5 linked regions of the Homo sapiens genome follow. The protein of the gene in region 5 purifies or fractionates together with the protein of the main gene of each other region. This does not show direct contact. Each region holds a gene or a part of one and is shown on either strand. Other genes may lie near its edges. The genes, in order: CYRIB, PCDH1, RAB6B, SERPINB6 and TMPRSS11A.

Region 1 (4,406 bases), on a different chromosome or scaffold from region 5:
GGGAGACTTCAACCCTGTCTTTCACTCGCCATCACTGGTCTCCTCTGCTTTCATTCTAAGGAAAAGGAAACTGAACTACCCTTAAAGTGAAACGTAGATTCTGAGTTAGGCATACTACCTTCAAGCTCAAGAAAGAATCCTAAAACCTCCTAGATCTCAATTACCTTCAAGTTTTTAAAAAAGATTTCCTGCCACTTGCTGGCTTCAAAGAGCCTGACCAATCAGAAAGACAAAGTCTTGGGAGAAAAATCAGGTTGACTGAGACACAGGGAGTATTCAGAAAGAAACCAAGGAGGAAAGACTCATGATATCATTAAATATTGGCAAAACCACTGAAGTATGCGTTGTAAAAACCCCAAGAATACAGAATTCTAAAAACTAGGCTTATGGTTAAAATAGTTTGACATTATAAGGATTTTAAATTATGTTCCTTAATCTTGCTGATGTTCATTTAGAATAGATCACCTTTATTCAGGCAGCTACCGCTTATGCAACACTTTTCATAATCTTTTAAAAACTATTTTTAAACATTTTTTCATAATCTTAATAAAATCATTTGACAGTTCCGCTTAGCTGAAATGATACAGCCTACATTTTATGTGGTAAATATCATTATATAAATATTTCTGTGTTCATGTAATTTTTGTGTTTAAACCCTCAAAAAATCAAGTAATGGGACATCATCTTTTATGTCATGTGAATACTACCAATTAAATCTCTGTAGTCAAATGTTATAAAGTATCGAGATTTTCATTTAAAAATGTTCTAGCAGCTGGGCACAGTGGCTCATGCTGTAATCTCAGCACTCTGGGAGGCCAAGGTGGGTGGATCACTTGAGGTCAGGAGTTTGAGACCAGCCTGGCCAACATGGTGAAACGCTGTCTTTACTAAAAATACAAAATACAGGCACATGCCTGTGATCCCAGCTACTCGGGAGGCTGAGGCAGGAGAAGCACTTGAACCTGGGAGGCCGAGGTTCCAATAAGCCAAGATTGTGCCACTGTACTCTAGCCTGGGTGACAGAGCGAGATTCCAACTCTAAATAACGAAATAATGTTCTAGCATTTGTAGAAGTTTGAGCAACTAAATTAAGTAAAACTAATCTAAGAAAAGACATTAAATAATGACTACTTAATTTTTATTGTAGGAAATACATAAAAATAACAGAACACAAGTCTGAGCACAAATGTAATTACATTCTATTAAGAGGAAAGAGCTAGTTACAAGCCACTTTGTAAGATATTATTTTGTAAAAAGATAACTACTACATAGAGCTATTATCTATATATGTAAAGAAAAAACTCTGGAAGGCTATATGCTAATAGTGGCTTATCTCAAAATGGTGAGATTACATTATTTCTTTTTATTTACATTTTCTTATGTTTTCTGAATTTTATTTATAACTGGTATATAATACTTTTATTACAAAAACAAGCAATCTCTGTTTGAAGAGAAGCAACAAGTAAAAGCCAAAATCTTCAACCAGAAAATGAAGCTGCTATTGTCATGTGTCCCACACATTCCTCATCATAAAATACCGTAACCAGTGTTTGGAAGCAAGATTATCAATAAACAAAATAAGATCTTCATATTTCTAGCTTGAACACTTATTTTTATATCCTATTCACACTTAATGCATTTTCTTTACATAAACATCGACCATTTTCCTTACAGATTTTTTCTGTACATACGTACACGTACATATACACACCTGAGAGCATTTAGAAGACCTTCCACACTATTAGGAGGTTGGTCCTTAAGAACTTTGATACAACCTTTCATCTAAAGAAAAAGAAAACAGAAAAGGTAAAACAGCCATTTTTTTCATGTAACATTCCTTTTCAAAATAGTAAAATAAATCAAGACCATAACTATGGAACTCAAGAGATTACATACTATGTCAAATTAATTATTCTTAGAACAGAAAAAAACCCAACCTAAGAGTTATTATTCTCACTTAGTGAAAACAAAATCTTTTTGAGAACAAAATCAGTCAAACTAATATACCACACATGCAATGAAAAACAAACGGTTTGCTAAGGGAAGACTTCTGGAAAAGGTGCTGAGTGGCGATTTAAAGGACAGAATGGGCTGGGCAGGGTGGCTCAGGCCTGTAATTCCAACACTTTGGGAGGCTGAGGCGGGCGGATCACAAGGTCAGGAGTTCGAGACCATCCTGCCTAACACGGTAAAACCCCGTCTCTACTAAAAATACAAAAAAATTAGCCAGGCGTGGTGGTGGGCGCCTGTAGTCCCAGCTACTCGGGAGGCTGAGGCAGGAGAATGGCGTGAACCCAGGAGGCAGAGCTTGCAGTGAGCCGAGATCGCACTACTGCACTCCAGCCTGGGTGACAGAGCGAGACTCCGTCACAAAAAATAAAATAAAATAAAAAATAAAGGACAGAATGAGTATGTTACTAAGGAAAAGAAGAACTTTCAGGTAGAGAAACCTCACAGAGTAAAGTATCACACAGAGGACAGATAGGAATTTTTCAGCACTGCACCTGGAGTTATGAGAGGCTGAAAGCCAGGATGAGTTATACGAAGTGTTATGCCTGGCAGCAGGGGACTCACAGGTTATTTTAAAAGGTAACCACTTGATGACGATGGTATTTAAGATATATTAGCCTGGTTGTTATAAAAAAGCATAATACAGCAGAAAGAACACAGGCTTTGGAAGCCAGAGAAATGTGGGTTCTACCTTTTCTAGCAACTCTTTTTATTTTTGAGATGGAGTCTCGCTCTGTCACCCAGGCTGGAGTGTAGTGGCGCAATCTTGGTTCACTGCAACCTCTGCCTCCTGGATTTAAGCGATTCTCCCACCTCAGCCTCCCGAGTAGCTGGGACTACAGATGTGTGCCACCACACCCAGCTAATTTTTGTATTTTTTTTCAGTAGAGATGAGGTTTCACCATGTTGGCCAGGCTGGTCTTGAACTCCTAACCTTAGGTGATCCGCCTGCCTCGGCCTGCCAAAGTGCTGGGATTACAGGCATAAACCACTGCACCCGGCCTACTAGCAATTCTATTACTTGATCTGCTAAACTTTAGTTGCCCTGTCAGTAAAGGGAGATGACACCTAAAAGAGTATTTTCAGAGTCACAAGGGAGAACAAACGTAAAATTCCTGGGACATGGCAACCATACAGTAAATATTAACTCATTTCTCTTTACATATGACAGGTGTACATGAAGGCAACAAGCTTGGCTAGTAATCAGTAATCGAGATCCGAAATGCTAAGAGCCTAAACTAGCTATGAAAGGGAAACGGGAAGACAATTCTCACCAAACACTAATGAACTAGATGTGAGAGGTTGGGGAAAGAAACTACGAAGTAGAGAAATTAGAAAACTATTTCTAATACAAACTTTTACAGAGAGAAGAAAAGTCGAGAGCCAACTATAGTCACAAATTATTATGACTAGGTAGGGGAGGGAAAATACATAAAGTCTTCATCTTTTTCCACTGGAGCATCCTACTGGCTGTCTTTTTAATTTCAAGACAGGGTCTCTCTCTCACCCAGACTGAATGCAGTGGTGTGATCGTGGCTCACTGCAGGCTGGAACTCCTGGGCTCAAGGGATCCTCCCACTTCAGCCTCTCAACGTAGCTGTGACTACCGATGTGTGCCACCACACCTGGCTAATTTTTTTTTTTTTTTTGTAGAAATGGGGGTCTCACTATGCTGCCCAGGCTGGTCTTCTACTCCTGGGCTCAAGTGATCCTCCTGCTTCAGCCTGCCAAAGTGCTTGGGCTACAGGCATGAGCCAGCACGCCCAGCAGCACTACTGACTTTTTATATGCATTCTGAAATAAACATTTTATTTGAAATGGCCTTTGGCCAAAGGAATTAAAGGATATGACTCAAAATTCCTTATATCTAATTATCTATTTATATTGCCAAATACGTAGTAGAAGCCTTCCAGGAGGTACTCACTAGACAATATAGTCATCCTTTGATCATTCTATTCCACCTGAATACAGGCCACAAGAAAAACAGCACAGGGACAGAGGAGATGAAAGTCCACCATTTCACAAACTATAAATCTGAGTTTTGTGAGAGTCCGGTTTGCTGGCTCTTATCATAAAATAAAATCCTATGGTTTCCATGGAGAAACTCGTTTGAAATTATTTATATAAAACAATAACTTACATCAATTTTGGAAGTTTTAGCAAATGCTCCCACTGGATGTACGTGGTCATAGAGTATTATGACACCCACCATTACCCTCAAGCAGAATGACACTGTCTCTTCATTTGTAAATCTGCTTCTGTATTCCCTGAAGAGTAGATAAGATATGCATGGAAGAAGTGCATTACAAAATTCTTTTTAAAAACACACACACACAAGAAAAACCTCTTCTGAAATATTTTATTCAAATTTCTATCCATTAGTTGAATGCAGTATG
Region 2 (4,406 bases), on a different chromosome or scaffold from region 5:
GCTGGGCCTGAGGCCCAGGAGCTATTTGGGCTGCAGGTGGCAGAGGACCAGGAGGAGAAGCAACCACAGCTCATTGTGATGGGCAACCTGGACCGTGAGCGCTGGGACTCCTATGACCTCACCATCAAGGTGCAGGATGGCGGCAGCCCCCCACGCGCCAGCAGTGCCCTGCTGCGTGTCACCGTGCTTGACACCAATGACAACGCCCCCAAGTTTGAGCGGCCCTCCTATGAGGCCGAACTATCTGAGAATAGCCCCATAGGCCACTCGGTCATCCAGGTGAGAGGCCCCCTCCGTATAACTGTCAGGGTGACCCACCACTAGAAATGGGAGCCCACCCAACCAGGTGAGAGTTCCCTTCACTTAGGGGAAAAACTGCCAGAATACTGTAGTGAGACCCCTTCTCCCCAAACTCAGCCAGGGGAGTCTTTCCCACCCCACCCCAGCAGGTGATATTACTTTCCTCTATCAGGCTACTTAGGTGACAGTGAAATAGCATATGAACAGTTTCCCGTGACCCCTAAGGCAGACTCAAGCTGGGGGAACCTCTGAGAAGTAAAACTCCCGCCCTAGTCAAGTAGATCCTTCTCTGCTAGCCAGGTGAGCTGAGTTGGAACAAAGGAATCACCGTTTATCCAGGTAGAATCTCTCCTGAGATGAGAGTATCTTCCCAACCAGGGATAGTTTCTCTTTAGCCAGATGAGGTTTTCCTGAAGCTGGAGGATATAGCCTCATTTTGCCTCTTCCTGACAAAGTCAGATGAGATCATTTTAGCCAGGTGGGACCCTCAGAGTTCTGAAAAAACATACTAGGGTGTCTGTATACATGCCTCCTCCCCTAGGCATGGGGTGCCCATAGATGTGGGGTGCTTGGTACAGTGGGGTTCAGTGGGGGGTCAATTTCCTCTGTTGAAGTTCTCAGCACCCCTCTCCATGGGAACTGCCCCAGGCGCTAGGCAGCTTGGTGGGGCTGGGGACTGGGAGGGAGCAAAGAAAGCGTCTCTGCAGACAGGTGGGTGTATCTCCCGCTGTCATCTCAGCTCTGGCCTCCTGCCAGCCCCAGCTCCTTTCCCCTTCCCCATGGGCTGAAGATGCCTCTCTCTTTGATGTGAGGGAGCTGAGGAGGCTCGGCCTGCCCTGGACACCATTACCCATCCTGGAAAACCCTTAGTCCTGGGTCCTCAAGCCAAAGTGGGAGATGGGTGGGAGTTTCAGCCTTTTTTTTTTTTTTTAGAGCCTGGTGGACTGGGACCTGGAAAAGAGACTGAGAAAGAAAAGGGAGACAGACAGTCGGGGATAGCAAATAATAATAGCCTAGGTGCCAGGCACCGTTCTAAACACATGATGTGTATTATATCATTTAATCCTTACAGTACAAGGTAAGTATTATCCCCATTTTGCAGATGAGAAACCGGGCCCAAACAGATTAGAAAACTCGCCTGATATCCTACAGCTAATGAGTTCAGAGTCCACCTTTGCCGCAGCCAAGAGTCTGGCTTCAGAGCCTAGGTGTGTAAGAGCTTTACCACCTCCCAGTGAGGTGAAGCGGGAGAGTAGGGCAGAGAGTAAGCAGAGAGGTCAGCAGGGCTGAAAAGAGAGGATGGAAGAAAACAGGCTGTGGGAAAGGGGAAGAATCAGAACTGAGCAAGGATAGAAAGGAGACAGAAGCCAAGAGTCACAGAGACAAAGAGAGGTAAGACAAGAGACAGATAAGCTGGAAGACCAATCTAGAGCCAAGGGAGACTGGGGATCCTCATCATAAAGTTGATGACAGGTAGACTGGGGTGAGGGGAGGAGAAACTGTTAGGGTTTGGCACTCAGAGATGTGAGCAGAGACCAGGGTACCTGGGGAACCATTGCCCAGGAGTCTTCACTGTAGGAAAAGCCCAGGCGGGGATAGCTGGAGTTCCCATTCCCAAGGAGGAGAGGACTGGCAGTGGCTTGAGGGCTCACTAGGTGCAGTGCCCACTACTGCATTAGCACTGATTTTTCAGAGGCAGGCGGGTAGGAGGGTAGATGGTTGGACAGACAAAAAGAAATACATGCTCTTTAGGGAGCACTTTCCCTGTGCCGGGCAATGTCAGGCATTTTTACCTGTATTATCCCATTTGATGCTCACCACAGTTCTGTGAAATAGGTTACATTATTATCCCCATTTCACACATTCATAGACTGAGGCTTAGGGAGGTTAAATAATTGGCCCAAGGTCACATAGTTACTTGGGAAGTGGTATAACTGGGATTTGAACCCAGGACTCTTCTGTTTTGTTACCCCAGAGACTCTGCCAAGTTATGCTTATTCTCCCCTCACTCCCCACAGCAGTCACATTCTGTCTGGCTGTGACCTAACTCCAGCCCTCATGTTTCTCCCTGCCCAGTAGTACCCCATGGCCATTCCCACCTGGGTCCTCTTCCCCATTACCAACCATGTTTGTATAGAGTTGAGTCGAGTGCGCGTTGGAGTTGGCGTGGGAGGGTGTGCCCGCTGACTGCAGAGGGACAGACAGTTCATTGTTTGATGCTGGGAGCCCAGCCCACTGCCAGCAGGCTCTGTGGCCTGCATCAACCCCTCCCTCCTGGCTGCAGGCTCAGGCCGGATTCCTCGCATTGGTGCCTCGCCAGCCGGTGCCAGTCGGGAGGAGAAGTTGCTGCTGAAACAGGTTTCCCCGGTTTGACAGAGCGGTGGCTGGGGCCCGGCCTGGAGGGCTTCTCTGACCCACAACCCTACCTGACTTCTTTCAAAAGAAATCCCCCAACCTGGGGCCTTCAGATGGGCATGTGAGTCTTTACTCATGTGTGCAAACACACATATGCACAAACACATATACCTTCTCACACAAAAATCACACATAATCACACATTCTGACACAATCATACACATACAAACACATATACCTTCTCACACAAACATATCACATTTAATCACACATTCTGACACAATCATACACATACATATGTGCATGCGTGCGTGCATGTAGTGCACATTCACACGGGCACACACACCGCCTCTACTACTCGCACCTCTCCATCTCTTCAGGAGGGTTCAGGCAGGGTTCATTGGTGAAATGGCTTCCCTAGTTCTATTGGATCCTCATCCTCTCCTGGTATTTTTGTGGACCCATACAGCAATGACAAGTGAGGTTTAATTCTGCCCTGTCCCATCTCCAATAGTTGCCTGTAGCACTGTTGAGGATTTGCAGGCTGCATCTGGGCTCTTCAGGAAAATAGGTTAGTAATGCCTGCCAGAATGTCCGAATTGGGAAAAGGCAGGACACACATGGCTTCTGGAAAGGGAGCGATGTTGGATTGGCTGTGTCTGCCATGCTTGTTGGAAAGGACATTGGCAGCATGTGTGCCCCTTTATTTGCTATCCCTGATCTAAACCATCTCTGTTCTCCTTGTTTTTCTCTCCTGCCCTATAGGTGAAGGCCAATGACTCAGACCAAGGTGCCAATGCAGAAATCGAATACACATTCCACCAGGCGCCCGAAGTTGTGAGGCGTCTTCTTCGACTGGACAGGAACACTGGACTTATCACTGTTCAGGGCCCGGTGGACCGTGAGGACCTAAGCACCCTGCGCTTCTCAGTGCTTGCTAAGGACCGAGGCACCAACCCCAAGAGTGCCCGTGCCCAGGTGGTTGTGACCGTGAAGGACATGAATGACAATGCCCCCACCATTGAGATCCGGGGCATAGGGCTAGTGACTCATCAAGATGGGATGGCTAACATCTCAGAGGATGTGGCAGAGGAGACAGCTGTGGCCCTGGTGCAGGTGTCTGACCGAGATGAGGGAGAGAATGCAGCTGTCACCTGTGTGGTGGCAGGTGATGTGCCCTTCCAGCTGCGCCAGGCCAGTGAGACAGGCAGTGACAGCAAGAAGAAGTATTTCCTGCAGACTACCACCCCGCTAGACTACGAGAAGGTCAAAGACTACACCATTGAGATTGTGGCTGTGGACTCTGGCAACCCCCCACTCTCCAGCACTAACTCCCTCAAGGTGCAGGTGGTGGACGTCAATGACAACGCACCTGTCTTCACTCAGAGTGTCACTGAGGTCGCCTTCCCGGAAAACAACAAGCCTGGTGAAGTGATTGCTGAGATCACTGCCAGTGATGCTGACTCTGGCTCTAATGCTGAGCTGGTTTACTCTCTGGAGCCTGAGCCGGCTGCTAAGGGCCTCTTCACCATCTCACCCGAGACTGGAGAGATCCAGGTGAAGACATCTCTGGATCGGGAACAGCGGGAGAGCTATGAGTTGAAGGTGGTGGCAGCTGACCGGGGCAGTCCTAGCCTCCAGGGCACAGCCACTGTCCTTGTCAATGTGCTGGACTGCAATGACAATGACCCCAAATTTATGCTGAGTGGCTACAACTTCTCAGTGATGGAGAACATGCCAGCACTGAGTCC
Region 3 (4,406 bases), on a different chromosome or scaffold from region 5:
TCAGAGTGGAGAGTGAGAACTGGGTCACACGTGTGTGTGCATACACACACACACACACACATGCGCGCGCGACTTGGCAAGTTTGGGAACAGTGAGGGTGGGCAGAGGAGGACACAGCAGCCTCTAGGGAAGGAAGGGCCCTACTGAGTGGTGTCCCCACCATGGGAGCTCAGGAGAGTTTGGGGAAGGCCAGAGGGGTTTCTGAAGAGAACCCTCAGGCTCTGCAGATGAGAGGAGGGGAAAGGTGGCCCCGGGACTAGTCAGGGGAGCCAGGTGCACTCAAAAATCCAGGAGAGACAAGGCCACTTCTGGGCAGCCTGACCCCCCTCAGCTGCCATGATAGGCCTTGCAGGGCAGAGCAGCTATAAGGCAATACCCACCACTCGGCAGCCTGCACACCCAAGGGGAGGGGAGGTAGCTGTCCTCAGAAGCCTCAGTTTCACACAGCCTGGTATCCCTTCTGATGTGCCTCAGGCCATGTGAACCCAGGCCCTTGCGGGCCCAGCTCCCACCTGCACTCAGGTGTGGAGGGGGCCTGTGGTCAGAAGAGAGGTGGACAGAAGGGGTGGGCAGAGCCAGGGCAGCAGGCTGGGTGGCGGGGGCATGCACCAGCGCGGGGACATGCATGCTTCCTTGTGTGATTTTTAAGGCTGTGGACAGCACCTAGGGCATTCGCCCACTTCAGGGTAACCACAGCCCTGAGGGCTTATCAGGTGTGTTCCATTACAAGAGCCTTGCAGGTCTGGCCTCTGCCTCGGCCCCCCACCCCCACCTCTGGCCCTGTGCGCCCTTGAGGCTGTGCAGTCCTGTTAAGAACACCTGCCCTGGCCTGAAGAGCCACAGTACTGGAGAAGGGTTACCAGCCTACTGCGCTTCCAGACCCCCTTGCCTACCTTCCCAGGGAGTCCTGCACCCACAGCTGCTGGGCCGGGGTTGGCCTAGGGACCAGCGTCTTCTCCCATGGTGACACACATATAGAAGTAGCTCCTTAGGGAGCTTTCTGACAGCCAGGGAGAGGGAGGGTGCAGAGAGGCTGGAGCAGGGCCAACCTTGTGAGCATCTGCTCACACCACAAGCTGGCCTCCACTCCGAGCAGGACCAACCTGGCCCTATAAACCCCTGTCGGTTGCAGGAGGGTGGGGAGCAGTGGAAACCATGTTGGTGTTCAAAGGCAACTCACCACTGCTCCCTGCCTTTCTGCATTCAGGGAGCAATCGCACACACATGCGTGTGCACACACATGCGTGTGCACACACATGCACACAGGCCTGGCCAGGGTCACACCTGGGCCCTGGACCCCCTATGAGCCACCCTCCCTTAGGAGCAGAGCCTCACTCACTTGTGATGTCGTACACCACCACAGCCACCGTGGAGTCCCGGATGTAGCTGGGGATCAGGCTGCGGAACCTCTCCTGACCAGCTGTGTCCCAGAGCTGCAGTCGCACCTGTCTCAGGGAGGGCAGGACCATGGGCAGAGGGGTCAGTGGGGCAGTGAGGTCCTCCTGGTCCGGGGGACTGGGAGAGCCGGGCTCTGCAATGCTGGCATCACCAGCTCCAGCCCCTAGTGTCGGCAGGTGCTCTCAGTGGTGCCCAGCTAAGGGTCCTAGGGGATAAGCCCAAAGGAACCCTCCCTGCCCCTCCCAGTCCTGATATTAGGTGCTCACCGTGCGGTCCTCCAAGTACATGGTTTTTGACAAGAAGTCAATCCCAATGGTTGCCTGTTAGAGAAAAGCACAGAACGGTCAAAATCAAAAGGTCTCATGCAAAGGGGCAAAAGCCTAGCGACCACAGGTGGTGGCATAACCAGCAAGAGGGGACGCTCATGTCAGGTCTAATGTGGCCATGCTCTGTCCTCCCTGCCCCTCCCTGCTACCACTCAGCGGCTCTCTCACTGAGGGATCAAGCTGAGGAAAGATGAGGGTGGCCTTTATAGGGTGAGATCTTCTCTGGAGAGGGCAAGTGCTTCAGAAGCAGTGAGAGCGCAGTGGTGAGGAGGCCTCCCCAGGAGCAAGGCCACTCAGGCCACTCAACGCACATATCCTGCCCTCCCCACCTGGACTCCCTGCCTTGTTCCCTTCATGGCCTAACCTGCAGCTTCCAAAGCCTCTTCCCTCTGCCCTAAAGCATGGGCCTGGGCTCAACACTGACCTCGGGAGGGTGGGAGGCAGGGGGCAGGAGCAGGCAGCTTGCTGCTGTGTGGGTGCAAACAGCAGCATGGCTTTTCTCAGGTGCGGGCACTGCAGACCACCCAGAGTGGCCTCTCGCTGGGAGGCCCCACTGGCTCTTTTCTCCCCAAGCCAAAACATTGGAAGCTGTCACCAGCTCCCCTGTGCCACACCTATGCCTCTTCTGCCCTGGCACCTGTGAGAGGCAGCCAGCCTTGTGGCCAGATGGCCAGGACCCACCACTCACTTGCTGTGTGGCCTTGGGCAGGCAACCAACCTCTCTGGGCCTCACAGGCACCCGGTACCTGTCAGTAGGACTGAGATGCTGTCAATGTAAAATGGAGATATCACTGCTATGTAATCAATAATAACAAAGACTTGGACACAGCCTGAATGTCCACGGCACTAAATAAGCATAGTGTGGTATATCCATGTGATTAGAACCCTTGGCAGCTGTTAACAATCACATTCTTGAAAAAATATTTAAGGATTTGGGGAAACGGTTATCCAGTTAAAAAAACAAATAAACAAAAAACAGGTTATAAAACATCATGTGGCGAGTGATCCCAATTAGATTAACTCAAATAGATCTATGAGTATTTTTCATGTTTTCTTAGACACTGAAGTGAAGGGAATCTGCTAACATGTTAATAGCATCACGGTCTGAATAGTGACAGAGCATTTTCTTTCCTTCATTACACTCCTTCATTACACTTTTCTCTACTTTCCACAATGAACATATAACAGTACTAAAATTAGAAAAAGTCCTTTGAAATAAAGTTTAATAAATAAGTTTAATTGTGTGGAATGCCATGATTTTTGACTGCAAAAAACACAACCAAAGGAAGCCCAAGAAAATAGAAAAGGTCATATCTCCAGTCCCCCCAGGCTGAATGCAAAGGTATGCACCAATGTGTGTGCACAAGTGTGCATGTTTACACAGTCACACTCCCAACTCGTTCCACAAAGGACTGAGACTGGCTTGCACCCTCCTGGAAGCTTGCCTCATAACACAAAGATATGGGGGGTCATTCTACGCTCTGGAGCATACGATGCTAGAATGTGGGCACTAGACAAAACACCTTAGATACAATCCAATCAATCCCTTACTTTGGAGATGAAAGAACAGACCAGAGGGTTAAAGGACATGCCTAGTGTGACTTCACTCATCAGTAGCAGGGCTGGGAAGATCAGAGCTGCAAACTTGGCAGCACCTGGGCTCTTTCTACCACAGCTTCGCATAGTGTAGCCACCGAGGCACAAATCTGCAATGACCAGTGCTTGTGGATGCAGACTTTTTCCTTCACAGGTGTATGTTAGATTGACAATCCTTGTCTTCTGATTCCCTTATGGAGAAATGTGCATAGCAGGTAGAAGTCTCTCAACTCCTCAATGCTCAACAGGCTCCCCAGGAGTGACATGCTCCTTTTGTAGAGTCACCTTTGAACTAAAACCAGGTGCATGAGCTTAGGACTGGTGGCAGGGACTGCTGGTTGTCCCCAGTATGTAGTTTCCCTTTCTATAGTAACAGAATTCTGGGTGTGCAGATGGACTCAGGGCTGCCCCAAATAAAGAACATATTTCCCAGCCTTCTTTGCAGCTGGGCGGCTACATTCTGGTTAATGGGATGTGAACGTGATGTAGGCATCTTTGGGGTCAGGTCCTCTGTGGGTAGGGAGTACCCACAGCTGCTCCCTTTCCCACTGTCCGGTGGGGATGAGTCATAGTGGCCCATCCAGATGAGGATGACAGAGGAGCGATGACATCAACGAAGGCTGACTCCCTGACCCTGAGGAGCTACTTCAGCAGCGCTGGACTGCTCAGATTGTTCTATTTTGTTTAAGTCACTGTTATTTTGGGTTTCTGTTAACATAGCCTAATTAACAAGCAAAGAACCATGGAGAAACGTATCTCTCAAAGGTAGGCACCTGATGGTAATGCTACTGATAACTGTAATGATGACAACCCCATCACACCTCACATGTCACAAGGCACTTCTGCTTCCACAAAGGGCAGAGAAGTCACCAAATGAAACAAGAAATTGTGCCACTTGGATGAAGTCCCAGCAAAGCTCAACCCAGTGGCCTCCATAATCATAAACACCATTACTGAACATCCACATACTTTCTCTCACATCCCATAACAGACTAACCAGAGGCAGCAACGAGGAACCTGAACAAGGCCAACATCCCATCTTCTCCAGCTCTCTCTTAATTCCTGCTTCCAGCTTCCCCAACAGAG
Region 4 (4,406 bases), on a different chromosome or scaffold from region 5:
TCTCACGGGAAAAAGCAATGCAAAGAATAAAGCAAAATGCCACTCCACTGGCCTTGAAGATGAAGGGCCTCAAGCCAAGAAACGCAAGGACCACAGCTGCAGTAGCTGGAAAGGCAAGGAGGATCCTCTGGAGGAGCCTGGCCCTGCGGAACCCATTTCCAACCTCCAACCTCAGAACTCTGAGAAAATAAACATGTGCAGTTTAGCCACGAATCCATGGTCATTTGTTACAGCAGCCACGGGAAACCAAGACAATAACTCATACACCTGATAAAGCTTGTTTGCTGTGCTTGTTTAAATATTTTGTTTTCAAACTCTTCTTTATTCATTACACAGAATACTTGGGGCACTGGGCACTCCTGGCTTGCCAAGCCTTTCCAAACATATTTTAAGATTACTAATTTCTAATAAAAGGACAATAGAAAGTACATATTACTAAAATTCTTCTGAATATAAGGGAGTCTTTGATGATACATAAATAAATCCAGGATTCCGCAGAGCCCTGGGAACACCAGTATAAACAAAAGTAGCCATTACACGGAACTGAAGCAAAATTGGGCCTATTTTTGGTTCTTTGGATTCTAGATCACAAGAACTGCCCGCTTATCAACTTGAAGAGAAACAATTGGTAAAACAGGGAAACTTCTAGGTTAAGAATAAGAAAAGAGGAGATGCCCCAAAGCAAGAAGCACAGCCTGTGAAGTCCGTGTCTCAGGACTCAAAGCCAGCAGACACCCTGACACGTGGGGTTTTCCCTGGCCTGGGGACATGGACTTCTGTCTTTGTCCCCAAGAGGGCTCAGCCCACGTGGAGAGGCTGCCAGGTGAGATGGCTCCTCCATAAACCAAAAAAAAAAGACAGAGGTTAAGTACCATGTCAGCTGGCCAGGGGAAGGTCCCACATGCTCCCCCAACCCCATCCTAGACTATTCTACCGTCAGCACACGTTTTCCCCTCAAATGCTGAAGGACTCTTACGCTTTTTTTTTTGTAGAGACAAGGTTCTTGCCACCTTGCCCAGGCTGCTCTCCAACGCCTGGCCTCAAGTGATCTTCCTGCCTCAGCCTCCCAAGGTGCTGAGATTACAGCCATGCACCACGCCCAGCCTAAAGGACTTTTAATTCAAATGGAAATGTCCACCTAAGAAAGGCTAATAATAAAACACTCCGTCTCCGGTAATATCCCGGAGAATCTGTTTCAGGCGCTGATCTTTATATCAGTAACTTCAACAAAGCAAAGCCACCTTTGTCTGAAGACACGCCCACTGGGGAGGTGCCTGTCTGGCCAGCCCAGGTTACACCATCTGGGGCAGAGGAGAAGTCGGTGCACATGAGTTTCACTGTGTCAGGGGATTTAATTTGAAATACTGAACTGGAGAAACCAAAGCAGGATATTCGGAGGAGAAGTCAGTGCACATGAGTTTTACTGTGTCAGGGGATTTAATCTGAAACACTGAACTGGAGAAACCAGACCAGGATATTCGGAGGAGATGGCACGAGTCAGGAGGAAGACAGGGTCTCTAGTCCTGGCTCTGGTACCCTGGGCAAATCACTGGACTCCTGATACCAGTTTCCTCTCTGTATGAGGAAAAGCATATACCAGATAATCTGGGTTCCCTTCCATCTCTAACATTCAATAATTGTTAATACCAAATGCAGAAGGAAGAGCAAAAATGTAGCTCAATTTTCAAAGCCCACAGTGAGGTCAGTAATGATATTCCATTTCTTAGTTGAAAACACTGCTGACAGCCGTGAAAGGTAAAATTCTATCTATGCCTTACATAAAAATTGCTGAGCAACAAAGAAACAATAAATCAAGGATGTCCTAGAGATTTAATTTTCTTAGCAGAAACTATGTTAGTCATTAAATAACTGAATATCCTACTCCTGATAAACACCCTTACGTCAAACAGCAAGTGGTACTTCCCATGCTTCCTTAACAAGGTAAGAATTACCTACTTCAGCAGCCACCAGCACAGCTGATGATAGAACATTAGTCCCTTAACTCCCCAAACAGGAACAAGATAAAAATATCTGTCGTCCCAACCTTGTGTAACTTTGTTCAGATAGTTCTGGCAAAGGCAAATACAACTCATGAAACATAATGAGAAAGGAGATTGTCAGAAAGGAGACAAAATGAGCACAGTTAGCAAACAATTTGATGGTCTACCCAAAAAGCAGCCAGAATCAGTAAAATACTCTTAAAACTGAAAAATAATGGAGTAACTGGGCTACTAAAAAAATAGGAAAAACAGACCCCAGTAGAAACACGTGCAAAGGACATTAACAAATTTACCCCCAAAAAAGAAAGACAATAGCTAATAATTATATTTAAAAGTTTCAACTTCAGAAAAAAATATCACTTTTTTGATATATACTATGTGCTAGGTCCACACTGAAAGACCCTTACCCTCTGAGATAGCTGCTGAGAACACCTACGTTTTATAAGCAAAGAAATCGGGCCTTAGCTCTTTAAGTACCATGTCTCCAGAGAACCCAGGGCAACAATGGCAGAATGACGGCTGGAAGCCAGGACCGCATGGCTCTGTAGTTCACTCTCTTAACACCATGGTGCACAGCCTTCCCAAAAAGCAATGGTGGAGAGTACATTAAAGATGCCTTTTCAAACCATGAACCTTGCAAATACAAAAACAATTCATGCTAATACTGACAAAGACAGGCAATCCTTCTCACGCCATGCAAGTAATACGGAGGCAGCAGGGACAGAGCTTGGCCCGTACCCACTCCCGTATTTTCCATACATCCCCCACGCCATCACACCTGCCCACCAGACCATGCAAACCAGGGAGGGAAACAAGATAAGCCATGTTCCACCCCAAATCTTACCCAAGGGAGTTAAGCCTGATGCCCACATGCATACAGGATCAGAACGACGATCCTGACCTCTTGCCTTGTTGTATTACTAAAACCCTCTCCTCAGGGGCTCATCTGCCATGCCCTGATCATGACACATCTGTGCTAACATGATGTTCCCCGGTGCCTGCCACTAGCGTGTGTAATGCTGCTGACACACCTCATGACTATCCATGTCACCCTAAAACACCAGGAACACCTGTCCCGAGGGCCAGCCCGGGAACTCCTGCCCCTGTGCCGCTGCCCTCCTGCTCCAGCATAAGCCCATTATAAAGCCTTGTCTGGGACACTTTCTCTGTCTCATGTCAATTTCCACTGCATGAGAATCTAAGAACCCACGATCAGTAACAATACTGTAAATTGGTACACCAGTATTTCCTGAGTATGATTTAGAATTATGTCAAAAATAAAAGTAAAATACAATAAAGTGAAGGAAGAAAAGAAAATGTCATGGAAACATTCATACTATCTGAATTAAAAATTCCACTTCTAGGAATTTCACTGAAGGTAAAACTCACAGGTTTTGTACATAATAAAACATTATGTACAACATTATGGGATATAAATAGGGCTAATAATAATAAAAATCACAGTAATGACATGGGAATACACAAGATTACATTAAAAAAGATATAAAACTATACATACAATTTAAATTTATCCATGTAAATTAGGAAAAAAGGTAAGTGTAGGCACAATTTACAGACAGAATAGAGGGAAATACTATACACCAAATGTTTCTAACGGTAATTTTTATGTTTTTTGTGTTTTTCTGGATTTTCACATTTTCTATAGCATATAATTTATGGAGGGGGTTGGTTAACTCTTCTTTTTATGAAATTACTATATATACATTCAGTTTAAAAATCAGGTGGTGTTAAAAGAGATGTTATAAAAGACAACAAGCTCCTTCTCAGCCCTCCCAACTCCCCAGAAGCAATCACTTCCAAACCCTTTGCTCTTTCTTCTGGTATTTACCACCATATTTCTACATAACGTGTATACTACTATTTTTGACCTAATAACTTTATCATGTTTTATTTTATGTATGTATTTATTTTTATTAGGGTAGGGGTCTCACGCTGTCGCCCAGGCTGGAATGCAGTTGCATGATCACGGCCCACTGCAGCCTCGAACTCCTGGCCTCAAGCAATCCTTTAGCGTCAGCCTCCTAAAGTGCTGGAACTACAGGCACCCGGCCAAATTCTAGACATTATCTATTGCCTTCCTAATCTAGAGGCCGAGGGCCCGGTCCCGATCCACAGGTTTGCTTTATTATCACTAAATAGCATTCGATGCTAAGCCAGGTGGTGGGATGGGAACCCATTTCCTTTTTATGTAATGCTGATTTGCCTTATATTAATAGTGCCTTTCCCCCCTTTCCTTAGTTTTCTATGTACTATGTATTTTCAAATTCTCCCCAAATGTTCTACAGGTCAGTCAAACCCTTTCAGTACTTTTTTCATATGCTTCGACACAAGGAATAATCTACCAGCTGCATTTTCCTCTCCCTCCGTCTGTCACCATGCTGCTGA
Region 5 (3,505 bases):
GTTGGTAGATCTTTTGGAGCATTCAGCATTTACCAGGTACATAGAAAACTATCCACATGAAAAAAAGAGTTGTGTTATTAATTCTAGGAAAGCAAAAAAAGATTTCTGTAATCCAAATATGTTACTTGACTCTTCAATTAATAAAATTTACACACTGGTACTAAATGTAGGCTGTTAATTTAACCAAAAATAGAGATGCTATAATGTAAAGATGTGGTGTGGAAAAGTTGCAAAGAAGTTGTAAAACAACTAAATCCCTAACTACGTAAGAGAAAATAAATATTTACTGTCTAAACCTAGAAGCTGTAATTTGAGCATATTATCTAGTGATAAGGAGTTAGATACTATAAGAAATCATTAAACAAGCATGAAGTGGCTACCTCTTGGAGAACAGCTTGCGTGAGGTAACATGGGACATAACTGCTTTTCAAGCCTCTTCATGTTTTTTCGTTTTTGCCTTTTTTAACTAAGTGCTGTTTACTCTAACAAAATAAATTTTATTTTTTAAATGTGAAAGTTGAACCTTAAGGCTCTTTGTAATATTAAAATCCATGTCTCAATTAATTATTCTGTGTTGATAGTCTATACATGTACTGTCTAGTAACAAAATATGTGATTCATCAAAATATCTTAAATAATGAGCTTTATGTTTAGCTAATTTTCTTTCTTTTTTCTTATGTTTTTATTTTTAGGGTGATTCTGGGGGACCTTTAGTCACAAGGGATCTGAAAGATACGTGGTATCTCATTGGAATTGTAAGCTGGGGAGATAACTGTGGTCAAAAGGACAAGCCTGGAGTCTACACACAAGTGACTTATTACCGAAACTGGATTGCTTCAAAAACAGGCATCTAATTCACGATAAAAGTTAAACAAAGAAAGCTGTATGCAGGTCATATATGCATGAGAATTCAACTATTTAGTGGGTGTAGTACAACAAAGTGATATTAAATTACTGGATCTAGTAACATGAAACACACAACGTAAGTTATTTAGAATCACTTTAATCAACCAATAATCCTTAGCCAATTTATAAGGGACTTTTATTTGTAAAGTAATGGATCTGGCTTGAAAAATACGGTAGAGATACTTAGCTCTTTAAATCACGAATGTTGAAGTACCAGTGAGACTCAATACATATTTTTGAAGATAGTCCATGGGATTTTTAGAATGTCGTTGTCAAGGGTCTCCTTTTAACTGAGAAACTTTTTGAACTCACAAAGTGTTCAAGAAACCCTTGTATAATTCCCTACATTTCTCTCGAGCTCACAAATACTTTTTTTTCTTTTTCCTTATTCAATCAGATTTTCCAAAGTACCTTTCCACCATAAGAAATGAATTTTCTACTTCTACACCCATTTGAGAGACACCAATAAAAGAAAGTCATATGTAGGAAACAAAGTCTGATAGTAAAACAAGCCAGAGATCTTCTAACTTTTTTTAGTTATAAAACCTCTAATTTTTGGTGACTTTTCTACACACACACACACATACAGTCACATAGATATTCTTATCCTACAGATATAATCAGAAAAATCCCGATTAATGAATTATATATAGATAGATAGAGTGATTAGTTAATCAAAACTATATATTTGTTAAAAATTTGGGAGAAGGTGATGGTAATTTCATTAGTCCCAAAACACCGGCATAAGAAATTTGACATTTCACAGATGCACTTACATATTTTGACCACAAGGGGGAAATTTTGTGCATTATTATTGTAGGGTTAAATGCCTGAAAAAAATAAGCATTTACTAATACCTTGAAAAATCAAAGAACATTATGTTCCTCCGTAGCAAGAAAAATTTTATGCCCTCGCATTGCTACAGCCAAATAGCTTATAAGGCTTATGGCAATGTCCCAACTATTGCAATCATAAAACCCTAGTTTTAGAAAAATTTGAAAATAAATATAAAATTTGAGCACCTACTGCATATAACACATGGGGCTATAACATATAACATATAGTATGTTTTCTCTTTTGGACCACTTTGTTATATGTGGTCCACAAGAGAAAACATACTCCATCAGCAACGTGTCTCCTGAAGTCATTAGGAGAGTAAGGCTCATGTATTTCGTAATACAATTAAATTAAGGCTTTATGGAAGCAATTATTCTGCTTGGCAATGCCTGTGAAATATTATGGTCTGCAGGCTGGGGAGTCATTTACTCATTTAGCCCAAATATAAGACAAATCATTGGAACGATGAACTTGCTTTATAATAATTTCCCTCACATGCTATTGAGAAGGCATGAAAATAATCCTAAAATATCTAAAAGAGATATGCAGTTCACTCATAAAACACTTGATTCATAATTTAGACTCATAGAATTTTAAAGCTGAGAAGAGATTGCATGTCACATAGGCCAATATACTTATGTTATGTTTAAGAATATGAGTATATTCTTAACTATTTTTATTGAATTCTTAACTATTTTTATTGAATCATCAGATCTGTAAAATTTTAAGTGAGAGCTATTGAACCTGTATTAAGATAGAAAACTCTTAAGATAAGAATTTTAAATGACGAGATTCATTTAGGCAGCTGGCTGCCAATTCTCTGAATTCACTTCAAGACAAAGTTTCTTCTTCATATATAAATATACATAGGCATATAAATTATTCTATATTATGGTGGTAAAACTTAATGCTGACTTTGGATGTTCAGATTCAGGAAATGATCTTAGAATTATGAACTTTGTATTTTTAAACTATTTGGTGCAGCATTTCATTTTGGGTCACATGTAAGCAGATATTGATATGTCATTTTTAATCTAATAAAGTTGGTGATCAGAGCATTCTACAAACAATATCACTGAGTTTGTTTTAGGCCAGTATCATGAATCTTTCAACTGTCATTAAAATCACATTTCTTTTAAATAACTAGTTTGGATCACTCTGAAGCTGAGTTCACAAACTTGGCACTATTAATATTTTGATCTGGATAATGCTTTATTGTAAGGGGCTCTCCTGTTCATTGCAGAATACTTAGCAGCATCCCACTAGATGCCTGTAGCATACCCCTTTTCTCAAATTATTATAATAAAAAATATCTCCAGACATTGGCAAAGGTCCCCTAAGGTATAAAATTGTCCCCTTTTGAGAACCACTATTCTGGATTCACTTGATCATTTTTAGAAATGTGAGAGATGACTCAAAGTCATGACATCAAATATTCAGAAACTATAGTTTTCTGATCAAGCTGAACATTCACTATCATGTTCCTAAAAGAAATAACAGAATACATGACTGGTGCTTCAGTCTGTGGCTGTTTCAAATACAGACTGATCTCCCCGCACGTAATGTCCTCAAAGAATTTGTCTTATGCTTCTGCCTGAACTAGAGTATAGTCATAGAGCACCATTAAAGTTTTCCATGAAGACAGGGCTTTATGAAAAACACCCTCTACCTTGACCAAAATCCACAGTAGGAAATACATTTTACATCACAGCTCCCTACATATACAACCAAATACATACAAAAATTGAAACAGAAGTTTCAT

Evidence for each region.
Region 1: the proteins of TMPRSS11A (region 5) and CYRIB purify together in Homo sapiens (affinity purification with mass spectrometry; one large-scale study listed by BioGRID and IntAct). This does not show direct contact.
Region 2: the proteins of TMPRSS11A (region 5) and PCDH1 purify together in Homo sapiens (affinity purification with mass spectrometry; one large-scale study listed by BioGRID and IntAct). This does not show direct contact.
Region 3: the proteins of TMPRSS11A (region 5) and RAB6B purify together in Homo sapiens (affinity purification with mass spectrometry; one large-scale study listed by BioGRID and IntAct). This does not show direct contact.
Region 4: the proteins of TMPRSS11A (region 5) and SERPINB6 purify together in Homo sapiens (affinity purification with mass spectrometry, with the first as the bait; one large-scale study listed by BioGRID). This does not show direct contact.

The regions. Positions count from the first base shown.
Region 1 is NC_000008.11:129,845,093-129,849,498, forward strand, and holds part of CYRIB (CYFIP-related Rac1 interactor B), read right to left. Parts: intron 4,278-4,406; coding exon 4,151-4,277; intron 1,783-4,150; coding exon 1,712-1,782; intron 1-1,711. UniProt on the Homo sapiens protein: Negatively regulates RAC1 signaling and RAC1-driven cytoskeletal remodeling. Regulates chemotaxis, cell migration and epithelial polarization by controlling the polarity, plasticity, duration and extent of protrusions.
Region 2 is NC_000005.10:141,864,442-141,868,847, reverse strand, and holds part of PCDH1 (protocadherin-1 isoform 2 precursor), read left to right. Parts: coding exon 1-279; intron 280-369; exon of another isoform or gene 370-1,378; intron 1,379-2,645; exon of another isoform or gene 2,646-2,776; intron 2,777-3,420; coding exon 3,421-4,406. UniProt on the Homo sapiens protein: May be involved in cell-cell interaction processes and in cell adhesion.
Region 3 is NC_000003.12:133,839,946-133,844,351, forward strand, and holds part of RAB6B (ras-related protein Rab-6B), read right to left. Parts: intron 1,719-4,406; coding exon 1,665-1,718; intron 1,446-1,664; coding exon 1,340-1,445; intron 1-1,339. UniProt on the Homo sapiens protein: The small GTPases Rab are key regulators of intracellular membrane trafficking, from the formation of transport vesicles to their fusion with membranes. Rabs cycle between active GTP-bound and inactive GDP-bound states.
Region 4 is NC_000006.12:2,960,918-2,965,323, forward strand, and holds part of SERPINB6 (serpin B6), read right to left. Parts: intron 1,214-4,406; exon of another isoform or gene 53-1,213; intron 1-52.
Region 5 is NC_000004.12:67,908,691-67,912,195, reverse strand, and holds the end of TMPRSS11A (transmembrane protease serine 11A), read left to right. Parts: intron 1-692; coding exon 693-854; 3' UTR 855-2,801; downstream 2,802-3,505. UniProt on the Homo sapiens protein: Probable serine protease which may play a role in cellular senescence. Overexpression inhibits cell growth and induce G1 cell cycle arrest.